Linked DNA regions of Homo sapiens. The protein of the gene in region 3 interacts with the protein of the main gene of each other region in a pairwise test. Each region holds a gene or a part of one and is shown on either strand. Other genes may lie near its edges.

Evidence for each region.
Region 1: the proteins of SASH1 (region 3) and SPG7 interact in a two-hybrid assay, tested with the Homo sapiens proteins (one large-scale study listed by BioGRID).
Region 2: the proteins of SASH1 (region 3) and UTRN interact in a two-hybrid assay, tested with the Homo sapiens proteins (one large-scale study listed by BioGRID).
Region 4: the proteins of SASH1 (region 3) and TNKS2 interact in a two-hybrid assay, tested with the Homo sapiens proteins (one large-scale study listed by BioGRID).

Annotation. Positions count from the first base shown.
Region 1 is NC_000016.10:89,525,403-89,528,902, forward strand, and holds part of SPG7 (mitochondrial inner membrane m-AAA protease component paraplegin isoform 1 precursor), read left to right. Parts: intron 1-926; coding exon 927-1,066; intron 1,067-3,500. UniProt on the Homo sapiens protein: Catalytic component of the m-AAA protease, a protease that plays a key role in proteostasis of inner mitochondrial membrane proteins, and which is essential for axonal and neuron development.
Region 2 is NC_000006.12:144,456,335-144,459,834, forward strand, and holds part of UTRN (utrophin), read left to right. Parts: intron 1-2,435; coding exon 2,436-2,677; intron 2,678-2,839; coding exon 2,840-3,020; intron 3,021-3,500.
Region 3 is NC_000006.12:148,541,838-148,545,337, forward strand, and holds part of SASH1 (SAM and SH3 domain-containing protein 1), read left to right. Parts: intron 1-1,842; coding exon 1,843-2,981; intron 2,982-3,500. UniProt on the Homo sapiens protein: Is a positive regulator of NF-kappa-B signaling downstream of TLR4 activation. It acts as a scaffold molecule to assemble a molecular complex that includes TRAF6, MAP3K7, CHUK and IKBKB, thereby facilitating NF-kappa-B signaling activation.
Region 4 is NC_000010.11:91,836,426-91,839,925, reverse strand, and holds part of TNKS2 (poly [ADP-ribose] polymerase tankyrase-2), read right to left. Parts: exon of another isoform or gene 3,273-3,500; coding exon of another isoform or gene 3,042-3,272; intron 3,008-3,041; coding exon 2,928-3,007; intron 1-2,927. UniProt on the Homo sapiens protein: Poly-ADP-ribosyltransferase involved in various processes such as Wnt signaling pathway, telomere length and vesicle trafficking.

The DNA of each region.
Region 1 (3,500 bases), on a different chromosome or scaffold from region 3:
AACACTATGCTCAGCTCTAGACGAGTCACCTGATAAAACAGCTGCCTTAAAGAGAAAATGCTCAGAATTCTGTCTTAGCAGTTTGGGGTGTGAGTGAGGGAGCAGCAGGTGCCATCCCCACCCCTCATCCCTGTCCTCTGCTGGAGTTTCCAGTTAACCTCAAAGAGAGTCCCGCAAGTCCGTCTGTGTCCTCCCTTTGGGGTGTTGCCGTCCAGTCATGCTGAAATCTGAGCTAAACATGCGGAGTTTACTTAGGAAAACGCTGCGTTTGGAGAATCGTGTGCCAGGGAGACGGACCTGTTGGTGTCCTGGTGTGAGGGATGAACAGTCTCAGGTTTTGTGGTTAAACATGAACCCTCTGTGGCCGCAGTTTCCTAAAACATCTGTTTTTGGCCGTAGTCTTGATTTTGCCATCCTCAGTCCCGTGCTGCAGCCTCGCCGGCCTCTGGGGGGCTCCTGCTGTGTCTGCAGGTGTAGCTGAGTCTGAGGCACACATCAGACGTGGGGCTGTGAGCTAACTTGCAGACATCCCTCCATTTCTTAGTTTTCCTATGAGTGGAAAATAGAAAGTCTATCTGTTGAAATTTTATTTCTCAAATTGTGGTTGAGGAAACAAATTTTTTAGACTTGGAAGTACAGATGTTCCTTGAATTAGGATATTTTCAGCTTCCCAGGGGCTCACTGGGAGGTAGCCCCATCGTAGGTCAAGGAGCTTAGTGTGCATATTGCTTTTACACCATTGTAAAATGGAAAGACCGTAAGTGGAACCGTCGTACGTTAGGAATCACCTCTAGTTTCTGAATGGTGTCCTCTTCACAATGCTGAGGTTGTCATTACCATGAGTTCCAGGCGGGCTCTCTGTTGACTGTAGGGTTGCTCGTCTGTCCCTGCGTTTCTCATGGTCCCCTCTCCTTTCTGCCCCCCAGCGGCTAGCCTTGATGTACCGAATGCAGGTTGCAAATATTGACAAGTTTGAAGAGAAGCTTCGAGCAGCTGAAGATGAGCTGAATATCGAGGCCAAGGACAGGATCCCAGTTTCCTACAAGCGAACAGGATTCTTTGGAAAGTATGTTGGATGTATTTGTTGATGCTTGAACTAAACCTAACTTGGCTTTGTAATCTGAGAAACAGATTGCAATCAAAAATCTCAAACTGTCTTTGCCTATAGTTAACTAGACTTTTTAGTGGGAGGGTTAAATAAATATAGAAGTGAATGATACAATGCCAGGAGATTTGGAAATATAGTTATCCCTGGGTATCCATGGGGGCTGGTTCTCGGACTTCCCAAGGATACCAGCACCTGAGGATGCCTAAGCCCCTGGTGTAGGATGCTGAAGTCTAAGCCCCTGATGTAGATGCCGAAGTCTCAGCCCCCGACGTAAGATGCCGAAGTCTCAGCCCCCGACGTAGGATGGCGAAGTCTCAGCCCCCGACGTAGGATGCCGAAGTCTCAGCCCCCGACGTAGGATGCCGAAGTCTCAGCCCCCGACGTAGGATGCCGAAGTCTCAGCCCCCGACGTAGGATGGCGAAGTCTCAGCCCCCGACGTAGGATGGCGAAGTCTCAGCCCCCGACGTAGGATGGCGAAGTCTCAGCCCCTGGTGTAAAATGCCGAAATCTTTGTGTGTAACCTAAGAACATTCTCTGATATGCTTTAAATCATCTGTAGGTTGATAATAATACCCAATACCCTGTAAATACTATTTCAATCGTTGTTATACTTTAGGGAATAATGACAAAAATGTGTCTGTGCATGTTGAGTATAGATGCACGTTTTTCCCCAGATACATTCATTCTGTGCTTGGTTAAACCTGCAGAGATGAAACCTGTGGCTGTGGAGGCCAACCGTGTGCAAGTCCGTTGGAGTTTGTTTAGTCACTTTCTTTAGTTGTGTGGCGCTTCTGAATTCACATTCTTGTATAATTTTCACTGACTGTGCTCTTTGATGAAAGCTTCCCAAATGGTCAGAGTGAGTGTGCAGATGCCGGAGATACCTAGTGATCTGGCCAGCCTTGTGACAATAACAACGTTCAGCTTTTTCTATTTTCAGTATATTTTGTTTTCAAAAGTAAGCGATCACTTTCAGTTAGCAAGGCAAGATCAGCCTAGCAGTAAGAAAGAAAGTCAAGGAGGACCGTGATAATGTCCTGGGCTTGCTCTCTTCTACAGACAGGAAAATGGAACGGGAAAAGGGTAGACACAGGAAGGTGAAATTCTCATTTCAGTGTTGAGAGGGAAACAGACCAGGTGGGAGCTGTCAGCACGTATGGACCATGGACCCTGACAGGTTCCTTAGTAGGACAAATGAGGGGCCAGCGGGTACTGAAACAGAGGTTTATTGTTGACTTGTAATCTCTGAAGATGTAGAATGCCAGTGACTGGCAAGTACTCCCTTGATCAAAATGTACCTCTAGCCGGGTGCAGTGGCTATGCCTGTAATCCCAGCACTTTGGAAGGCTGAGGCAGGGAGGATCTCTTGAGCCCACAAGTTCGAGACCAGTCTGGGCAGCATGGAGAACCCCATCTCTACAGAAAAAAAAAAAAGATGCACCTTTAATTCTATAACCCAGCAACACCTGGAAGATCACTGCTCTGAGGCTGTGTGTCTCATGTCTTTGTAGGCCAGTGATGTACAGAAGATGGAGGGTTGGGGCAGGCCCATTCTCGTGTCTTCGTAGGCCGATGATGGACAGAAGGTGGAGGTTTGGGCCGGGCGCGGTGGCTCACGCCTGTAATTCCAGCACTTTGGGAGGCCGAGGCGGGCAGATCACGAGGTCAGGAGGTCGAGACCATCCTGGCTAACACGACGAAACCCCGTCTCTACTAAAAATACAAAAAAAATTAGCCGGGTGCGGTGGCGGGTGCCTGTAGTCCCAGCTACTCGGGAGGCTGAGGCAGGAGGATGGCGTGAACCCGGGAGGCGGAGCTTACAGTGAGCCAAGATAGCACCACTGCAGTCTGGCCTGGGTGACAGAGCCAGACTCCATCTCAAACAAAAAAAAAAAAAAAAGAAGAAGATGGAGGTTTGGGGCAGGCCCATTCTCATGTCTTCGTAGGCCGATGATGTACAGAACAGAAGATGGAGGGTTGGGGCAGGCCCATTCTCGTGTCTTTGTAGGCTGATGATGTACAGAAGATGGAGGGTTGGGGCAGGCCCAGGGCAGCCCCTCCTCAGGATGAGGGCAAAAGTCCTGGGATTTGCTTTTTTTTTTTTTTTTTTTTGGAGTCAGGGTCTCACTCTGTCGCCCAGGCTGGAGTGCAGTGGTGCAATCTCAGCTTACTGCAGCCTCGACCTCCCAGGATCAGTGATTCTCCCACCTCAGCCTCCTGAGTAGCTGGGACTACAGATGCACACCACCACATCCAGCTAAGTTTTTTTGTATTTTTAGTAGACACAGGGTTTATTCTTACATTTTTCTTTTCTTTTTGAGATGGAGTCTTGCTCTGTAGCTCAGGCTGGAGTTCAGTGGCACGATCTTGACTCACTGCAGCCTTCACCTC
Region 2 (3,500 bases), 4.1 Mb from region 3:
AGAGCATAGAAACAATTTTAGAAAATAAAATAGCGTGAGGCTGGGCGCAGTGGCTCACACCTGTAATCCCAGAACTTTGGGAGGCCGAGGTGGGTGGGTCACGAGGTCAGGAGATCAACACCATCCTGGGCAACATGGTGAAACCTCGTCTCTACTAAAAATACAAAAATTAGCTGGGCATGGTGGCACATGCCTGTAATCTCAGTTACTCAGGAGGCTGAGGCAGGAGAATCGCTTGAACCAGGGAGTCGGAGGTTGCAGTGAGCTGAGATTGCACCACTACACTCCAGCCTGGTGACAGAGCAAGACTCTGTCTCAAAATAATAATAATAATAATAATAATAATAATAATAATAATAATAAATAAAATAGTGTGTTTCATTTGACTTTCATAGCTGATATACTTGGTTTTCTTCGTTTAGCTTATCTTGTTCCTAGAGCTCTTCATCTAGTAAAATACAGTAGAGTAGTTGGGCATCTGGATAATGTGGCTTTATGAATCAATGCCCATTGTGGTTGCCTAAGCATATAAGCCCAGGAAGTTTGGTGAAGGTCCTATGTTTTGTAAACGTTTCCCTTGATTCCAATAGTGATAGACTGAGAAGTGTAAAGTCAAGTGAGACTGAGTGGCAGGAATGTGTTCTATGTTCTCCCTTTTAGACAATTAATAAAGTGATCTTCTGTTGATTTTGCCTTTTGACTAGTCACCTTCTAAGAACTCTGTGTTTTATAGAAATAGAAAATTTTAAACTCTGGATCTCTGGGAGTAAAACAACTATTTTTAAAGACAATGTGCAGTTTTCCTTTTATAAGATGTAAATTGTGTTTGAATCATTACCGGGCATCACTGTAACCAGCAATATCTCAGGATTAGAGAAAGGGAGATTCAGATGTTTAAAATTGGTTTAAAGAGGCAAAATGAATGGCTTGTAAGACATTGTCAGTGAAAAAATAACTGAAGTTGTTTTAACCGCCCTTGTTCTTGAAGTGAGCACCTCTTTCCAGTTTTCTAGATGAGTAGTGGTAATTTTCCATCTCAGAAATTTTATTTACCTACTTAATTTTCTTCCTTGATTAGTATGAATTGTCCAACATAAAGATGATGTGGCTGGTGTTACTATTCCTTTGCCTGCCTAGAATAGAAATGATGGGGCAGGGGCATGACCCATATCTCCATTGTTCATATTGTTAGGAAAATGGTGATTTGTTTTGTATACTCTCCCCATTAACAGGGGTAATGCAGCATGGCTTGTGGTGTGAATGCTTTGCTTATGTCTCATATTCTCTTACCTGAGAGATGGTGGTGAACAGTGAACTTCTGCAATTGACATAGGTGACACATTCAAATGACAGCATGATATGCCCTCATTTATGATTTTCAGTAGACACAGTGTATTATAAAAATTTTCAAAGTTGCATTGTCTGTGGATCATACATGACTTTTTGTTTTTATGCCTTTGTTTTTTAGTTCAAGCTCTCATTATCCTGGATTTTGATCATATATGTTTATAAAGCAGGATTGTTTTATTGCTTTCCTACTCAATAAAAATGTGAAGCCATCCTTTTGGTATGCATGTTTTCCTCCGAATAGAAAGATTCCTTTGAAGATTTCCCATACTTTTTCATAGTCATTTTAGAGGATTTGAAGGTATTTTAGATTAAGGGAAGGACTATGATAAAACCTATTATTATATATGACTTTATTATTTTTAGGAACATTCTCTACTTTTCAAAAATATCGGACAAATAAAATGATAAGATTTCAGTAATAAAAATGGTGGCATTGTTTTCCCTGATGTGTTTCTAAAGTAGATCATCTTATTGCTGCCTCAGTCTTTTGGTATTTGCTTATTTATGTGCAAGGTCTCCAGTGGGCTTGCTGATGCTTCTAGAGCCTGGCTGCTGGCTTAATATTCCTGCACTCACCAGGTTGCTTCCCAGCATAAGGCATCCTCGCCATTCATTTTTTAATTTATATGACACTGTGCTTTGGTCACCAAGACCTGAGCTGCCTCCTAGTTTTTCTAGCCAGCTTTCTTTTTTTCTTAGGACAAAGGGTCTTCTTTCTGAAGTCGGGCCTAGACAGATCAAGGTAGTTGATCTTATTTCACTGGTTCAGGTGATAAACTAGCAGAGTAGAAGCATGGCATGGATGGAAACATATATTATCTAGAAAAGGCAGTGGCTGAAGTTCTACTGATGTGCCTGAATCGTTATTTTAAAATGTCTTTCTTCTTTGTTCAAGGAATTGAAATAAACATCATTATTTTTAAGTGCATCATTATAAATTTTTGTTGTTGTATTAAAAGGGACTTAAGAAAGTGATCATTATGTGTGACATTGCCTCACTATTCTGAGTGTTAGAATGTTCAGAATAAATTCAAGACACATTTTGTAATATATAGACTGTTTGCTTGTTTTTCATGTCTGCATAGAAGGCCTTCCTACTGAAGAAATAAAAAATGTTCTGGAGAAGGTTTCATCAGAATGGAAGAATGTATCTCAACATTTGGAAGATCTAGAAAGAAAGATTCAGCTACAGGAAGATATAAATGCTTATTTCAAGCAGCTTGATGAGCTTGAAAAGGTCATCAAGACAAAGGAGGAGTGGGTAAAACACACTTCCATTTCTGAATCTTCCCGGCAGTCCTTGCCAAGCTTGAAGGATTCCTGTCAGGTAAGGAGCCAACGGTCTGGAAAGTGGAGGAATTCTATGTGCAGTTCCAGAGTTAAGGAGGGCTTCTCGTATCATGAACTTTAAGTTAATGCTGCCCTGATTAACTTCCTGTGAGGATGTTCATCTTCAGTGAGTTGTGTGACCGTATTTTCTCTTCCTTAGCGGGAATTGACAAATCTTCTTGGCCTTCACCCCAAAATTGAAATGGCTCGTGCAAGCTGCTCGGCCCTGATGTCTCAGCCTTCTGCCCCAGATTTTGTCCAGCGGGGCTTCGATAGCTTTCTGGGCCGCTACCAAGCTGTACAAGAGGCTGTAGAGGATCGTCAACAACATCTAGAGAATGGTAAACCCAACAATTTTAAAATCTCCTGTCTCAGTTTGCCTTAATGTAAACATGACTCCCAACATTTAGAACTTGAGTACACTTGCTTGCTTTGCACCAACCTTCTCCATTTTCCTTTGTGCCTGTATTGTTCAAAGTCTTAAAGTCTTCTGTATTCAGATTCTTTTCCAGATTCACACCTTTTTGTAAACATACAAGCAAGTTTCACATTCTCTAAAATTGTGTCAGTAGGATATAATAATAATTTTTTTTTTTGTAGCTACAGGATCTCACTCTGTCACCCAGGCTGGAGAGCAGTGGTGCAATCATAGCTGCAGTCTTGACCTCCTGGGTTTCAGTGGTCCTTCTGCCTCAGCCTACTGAGTAGCTGGGACTACAGGCATGCACCACCATGCCTGGCTGGTTTTTTATTTTTAGTAGAGCCAGGGTCTAGCTATGTTGCCCACGCTGGTCTAGAACTCCTGGGCTCAAGTGATCTTC
Region 3 (3,500 bases):
AAGGTTTTCTATCAACTTGGGAAGATAGTAGTTCTCCCCAAACTATATATAATATTCAGATAGCCTCGGTCAAGACAGGATGCAAAACTCACCTAGTATCCCAGTACATCCTCAGTTTCAGTAAACATCAGAATCCTTATGTAGCTCATGTAGGTTCTGAAGAATTTTTTTTTCTCTTAATAACCTTTTCATATCCAAAACTTTTCAGGAAATTAATTCCCCCAACTGTTGGTGATTGGTAAGGATCTCACAGATATCACTGGCAGAATTTTTCATGCCCAAATGAATTCAGGTGTACCTGCTGAAGAACTAGATTGCTAGCGAACCATACTTTGAACTCAAAGTAAGTTCAGGGATCTTTCTAATGTAATGCAGAATGCAAAAATGGAACTTATATATATAGTTTTATATTGGGAGTTAAGGGAAAAGAAAGTCATATTTCTAAATTTATGCTAAAGAGGTTCTAATAATTTTCTATTTCAACCCACTTTTAAAATCTGATGCAATTTTTTTTTTCTGAAGAGGTATTTCTTCATTTATCTGTGATGATTTTTCTTTTCTTTTTATGAGGCGGAGTCTCGCTCTGTCGCCCAGGCTGGAGTGCAGTGGCGCGATCTTGGCTCACTGCAAGGTCCACCTCCCGGGTTCATGCCATTCTCCCGCCTCAGCCTCCCGAGTAGCTGGGACTACAGGCGCCTGCCACCATGCCCGGCTAATTTTTTATATTTTTTATGAGAGACGGGGTTTCACCGTGTTAGCCAGGATGGTCTCGATCTCCTGACCTCGTGATCCACCTGCCTTGGCCTCCTTAAGTTGTGATGATTTTTCTAATAATGAAAAGTAGGACCATGGTCAATATCTTCAGTAGTAGCACTAGGCTGATGATCTTTATGTAACAACAATAATATCCTACAAATGCATAGCATGTTGGTGTTTATCAGTGTGGAACATACAGGTGGACAGGGTCAAAGCACACAACAAACATGTTATCAACCAAAAATGTAACAAGGGACAGTGTGTGTGTGTGTGTGTGTGTGTGTGTGCGCGCGCACATGTAAGTACTGATGAGAACAAAGCATTCAGCACATTGTCTGGCCCATGAATTGTAAGTTCTTGGCAAAGCTTATCCAACAGCAGCAGTTTAGTATCAACTACCAGTCGTCAGATAAGTAGATTATGTCTGGTTGATAGTTCAGTTATCAGTCTGGCAGTTGTAACTAGGACTGTTGCTTTGCTGGGACCTAAAACTTTATCAGTATTTTGTAGATTTTCTTTGGCAAAGTACTCACAAAAGTTTACCTGTCTGTGTCCAGGTTGGTTGATTGCTTCTAGGATAAACTTACTAGAAGGAGGGGCTTCAGGGAAGGTGGGATTTGAGTATTCACAGATCACTCTGTAGGGGATACCATTTATAGAACCTGTTGTGAAATTCAGTCCAGCTCTCCTTTTCCATCATGACCTTGAGAAATTGTACTCACCCAACAAATCTCATCAATATGCGGTATGATGATCAGCCTCTTTCCACGTCGATTGCAGTGGGGCACAGACTTAAGCCAAGATTTATTTTACTGCTTGACACAGCGTATTTCTTTCCCATGTAACCCAATTAATTTCAGTCTTCATGATTCCTTTAATAAGACTAAGAATTCTTTCTAAAAATAAAAATGGAACCATAATAACCCTCTATCACCCGATGTCATAAATGGTGATTTTATGTTTTTAGTGTAATTGAACAATAGGATGTGGGTGTTGGAGATTTCAATTATGTTAGCACAACTTTATGCATCCGTTTGATTGATTTGCTTTTAAAATGTGATTGTAAAATATTCCCTTGTCTCACAGGCAAGACTCGGAAAGCTAGCCTCCTATCTGCCAAGTCATCCACCGAGCCCAGCTTGAAGTCTTTTAGCAGAAACCAGTTGGGCAATTACCCAACATTGCCTTTAATGAAATCAGGGGATGCACTGAAGCAGGGACAGGAGGAGGGCAGGCTGGGTGGTGGCCTTGCCCCAGACACGTCCAAGAGCTGTGACCCACCTGGTGTGACTGGTTTGAATAAAAACCGAAGAAGCCTCCCAGTTTCCATCTGCCGGAGCTGTGAGACCCTGGAGGGCCCCCAGACTGTGGACACTTGGCCCCGATCCCATTCCCTGGATGACCTTCAAGTGGAGCCTGGTGCTGAGCAAGACGTGCCTACCGAGGTGACAGAACCGCCCCCTCAGATTGTACCTGAAGTGCCACAGAAGACGACCGCCTCTTCCACGAAGGCCCAGCCCCTGGAGCAAGACTCTGCTGTCGACAATGCATTGCTACTGACCCAAAGCAAGAGATTTTCTGAACCTCAGAAATTGACAACTAAGAAACTGGAGGGCTCAATCGCAGCCTCTGGTCGCGGCCTGTCACCCCCTCAGTGTTTGCCCAGAAACTATGATGCTCAGCCTCCTGGAGCTAAACACGGTTTAGCAAGGACGCCTCTGGAGGGCCACAGAAAAGGACACGAGTTTGAAGGAACACACCATCCCCTGGGCACCAAAGAAGGGGTAGATGCTGAGCAGAGAATGCAGCCCAAAATTCCATCACAGCCTCCACCTGTTCCTGCCAAAAAGAGCAGAGAACGCCTTGCTAACGGACTCCACCCTGTTCCCATGGGCCCCAGTGGGGCCCTCCCCAGTCCCGATGCGCCATGCCTGCCAGTGAAAAGGGGCAGCCCCGCCAGCCCCACCAGCCCTAGCGACTGTCCCCCAGCACTGGCTCCCAGGCCTCTCTCAGGGCAGGCGCCTGGCAGCCCACCAAGCACAAGGCCGCCCCCCTGGCTCTCAGAGCTCCCCGAGAACACAAGCCTCCAGGAGCACGGTGTGAAGCTGGGCCCGGCTTTGACCAGGAAGGTCTCCTGTGCCCGGGGAGTGGATCTAGAAACGCTCACTGAAAACAAGCTGCACGCTGAAGGCATCGATCTCACGGAGGAGCCGTATTCTGATAAGGTATCAAAGGTCCTGGGCCCACCACGTTCACAGGCCTTTGTTTGTAGAAGTCAGGCAGCCAGGTGAGATGAACCCACATCTGAAGCCAGCCCGGTAGCCCGCCCAGTGGACAGGAGACACCTGAATCCACGTGTCCACACCTTACTTGACATGCATGTGTTCAGATATTGACACCACCCCATTTCATCTCTCCGTAGGTAAACCGAGGTTAAAAATAACCTGCATGAAGACCTCTTAGAGGGATTACTAGGAGCAAATAAAATAAATGTGGACAAAAGAACCCTATTCAGATGTGATAATTGTATTATACAGTTATCTGTATGGGTAATGGGAAAAAGATAATATAAAATCCCCCATTGTACCAAAAACATTTAGCTGTATAATGAAAAATTATTTCTCATTCAAAAAAAATGAGATCTACCAATACCAAGTGACTCCAAAGACAAAGCAATGCTAACAGATACAGCAGTACTTTACTCCTGGAAATACAGGTCCTATTAGGATGCATTCCTGAGAGTC
Region 4 (3,500 bases), on a different chromosome or scaffold from region 3:
CATAGAGGTACATGAGATTACGGTAGTACCAGCATTACCAAGGAGCTTATTAAGAATTCAGAATCTCAGATCTCTATCTACTGAGTCAGAATTTGCCCTTTAACAAGATCCCTAGGTAATATGGAAACACATTAAAGTTTGAAAAGTACTCCTTTAGAGCAGTGGTTCTCAAACTTTAATGTGCATTGGGTCCAACCCTCAAATTTTCAGTGTAACTGGTGTGGAGCCTAAAAATCTCCACTTCTAACAAGTTCTTGGGTGATGCTGATGCTGGTGGTTCAGTAACCATACCACTCCATGTGGAATGAAATAACTAATAGAATGCTGATGGTTAGGCTGAACGTGGTGGCTCATGCCTGTAATCACAGCACTTTGGGAGGCTGAGGCGGGCAGATCACTTGAGGTCAGGAGTTTGAGACCATCCTGGCCAACATGGCAAAACCCTGTCTCTACTACTTGGGAGGGTCAAGCAGGAGAATCGCTTGAACCTGGGAGGCAGACGTTGCAGTGAGTTGAGATCGTGCCATCACACTCCAGCGTGGGTGACCAACCCAGACTCCATCTCCAAAAAAGAAAAAAGGAAAAAAAAATGCTGATGGTTTATACAGTCCTGGGGAGAATTAAGAAAACAGTCAATTTTCTGTGCTCTTTGGTTCAGAGGAGGAAGTGTAGTTATGAAAAGTATGAAAGTTTGGGGAAGAAAAGCAACATAGATAATAAATCAGAGTGCTTAAAGAGTCAAAAGAATATATCTATCTTAGGCCGGGCACGGTGGCTCACGCCTGTAATCCCAGCACGTTGGGAGGCCAGGCGGGTGGATCACCTGAGGTCAGGAGTTCGAGACCAGCCTGGCCAACATGGTGAAACCGTCTCTACTAAAAATACAAAAAATTATCTGGGCGTGGTGGCGGGCGCCTGTAATGCCAGCTACTCGGGAGGCTGAGGAAAGAGAATTGCTTGAACCCGGGAGGTGGAGGTTGCTGTGAGCCGAGATCGTGCAATTGCACTCCAGCCTGGGCAACAAGAGTGAAACTCCATCTCAAACAAACAAACAAACAAAAAGAATATATCCATATTAGTAAAAACTCTTTCCCCCTTTTTACTAACCTACTCCCAAAACAGGGATAACCTAAGCTCAATAAAATAAAGGAGCCTACTATCAGTGGGTTTACCTCAAGGGGTTTAATCATTGTCCTGGTAAAAAGCTCTTCTGTGCTTCCCAAATAAGATCTGGCTAGATATACAGATTCAGGGCCCCATTCAAGAGATGGTATTTCAGTGGGTCTCAAGTCAGGTTCCTAGAAATGACTATTTTTAACACGTGTACCAGGTGCTGCTTGGTTTGGTAGTTATCACAGGCCATTCTACTCTTTACCTGTCAGTTTAATTTTGTCCACTCTGAGATAGGTTTTCTAATAGCATGTGTCGAATAAAGTATCCAGCCTGGTGGATTATCAGTGAACAAACACAACTGAGCACAATAGTTAAGTGTTCATTAGGTAATACGCAGATGTTCTTGTCCCAGTGATTCGTACAGAGCCATCTGTCTGGAGGTAGATAAGAAGAATGGCTGATGGAGATAAATGTCCATCAAGTGATTTTAAAAGCAGAGGGGAGGGAAGAAAGCCTGATGCCTAGCACAGGTTTTCCTGAATCCAATGGCATTACTGTGTTCCCTAAGTCCATTTCCTGCCCCCCAACTTCATCTCCTCTTTATCTATCCCCTCCTCTGGACTCCCTCTATCTTTATAAAAACAAAGTTTAGTCTTTAACATGTTTACTAAATATAGTTTTATGTTCTTTAATATATGTAAGAGAATGAGCATTTACAATTCTGTATCTCTCCCTTCCCACAAACAGCAAAAAAAAAAAAAAAAAAAAAAAAAAAATCAGCTAATTGCTTTCAACTCAATTTTCATGTTTCCTGAAAAAAAAATCAGTTCACAACCTTTTAACTGAAGTAATTTGTATTTCCACAAGTCAGTAGTAATAGAAACAAAATCCTCCTTTCGATATCCTATTAGCCTCCTACTTAAGGGAATGAGAATAATGAGGATCAAAATAAAAACATGTCAAATAATAAAACTGCATGATAGTTGCATTTTTCTGTGAGAAATGAATTTAGAAAACAAATCTGAAGTTATCTGAGATGTCTATACTGTCTCAGCCTCCCAAGTACCTGGGATTACAGGTGCATCCCACTACGCCCAGCTAATTTTTGTGTCTTTAGTAGAGACGGGGTTTCGCCATGTTGGCCAGGCTGGTCTGAAACTCCTAACCTCAGGTGATCCACCCGCCTCAGCCTCACGAAGTGCTGGGATTACCGACAGGTGTGAGCCACTGGGCCCAGTTTTACATACATATTTCTACAGCAAGAGTCAAAACAGTAAGAAGGGTTACTCTGGGGAAGACTCTTGTCGGAGAAACAGGTAAGACCTGAAGTTGCAAGCCCTGGGAAAGAGAAGTGGCAACATTGTATTTATTATTATACTAAGCCCTGGATCCCTAGAGGTAGATGGGGTGAAGAAATGAAGAAATCAGAAGAAATCTATAGACAGAAGTGATACACTGTTTTTCCCCTTTCTTGTTTTATGTGTCATACGTAAACAGTAATATAAAATAATTTGATAAACTTTATTCTGTTAAAGGGACAAATGAATAGGTTCTTCAAGCAAAACCCATTTGGTATTACCCGAATTTATTTATATTTGTGAATGTAATATTCACTGGGATGCAGGTGAAAGTGAAGTCTTTCTCTTTCATTACTTAAAGCTACTCATTTGTAGAGAACAATTAAGATTGTATTATTGACCTTTTAAGGCAAGGCCCATACAAATAAACCAGGCTCTTCATTGTAACAGTACAGATTAAATAACAATGTCAAAATAAAAACCCAAAGTTAACAGAAACGTAACACTGTATCTTACTTTTACAGTTTCGACATCTCCAGCCTTTGCAGCTTCCAGCAATTGTCTGTCTGCCTCTGAATTACCTAATGAGATACCCTCTAAAAAAGAGAGAGAGAGAGAAGAGTGACTAACCTCTATTTGGAAGATGGAACCAAGCTTTATGGAAGGCATCTCATCAGAAAGCAAAGTTCTTTTACAATTTGGTAGATTATGTACGAGATCTCCATGGTAGTAAGGGGGGTGAGGGTTGGGGAGTGAAAAATAAGATTCTCTTAAAACTCTTTGAAATACAACACATATAAGCAAAATATGTAAATGTGTATAATGATTATAAAATGTGATGTAAGCAATATAAAGGAACATAAAGGAGATGACTAAAGATGGCCTGCTCTATAAGCAAGCCATTGGAATGGTGCAAAAGTATTAAATTAAGAGAGCAAACAGAAATCTAACTGTGGTTCTGTCATTAATTAGCTATCTGAACTGGAACAAGTCACTGGAACTTCCTGGTTCTCAGATTTTTTCAGTTCTAAAGACATAAGGTAGACTAGTAGAAATGTAACATCATTTCCAGGTCTGAAATTCTAAGTT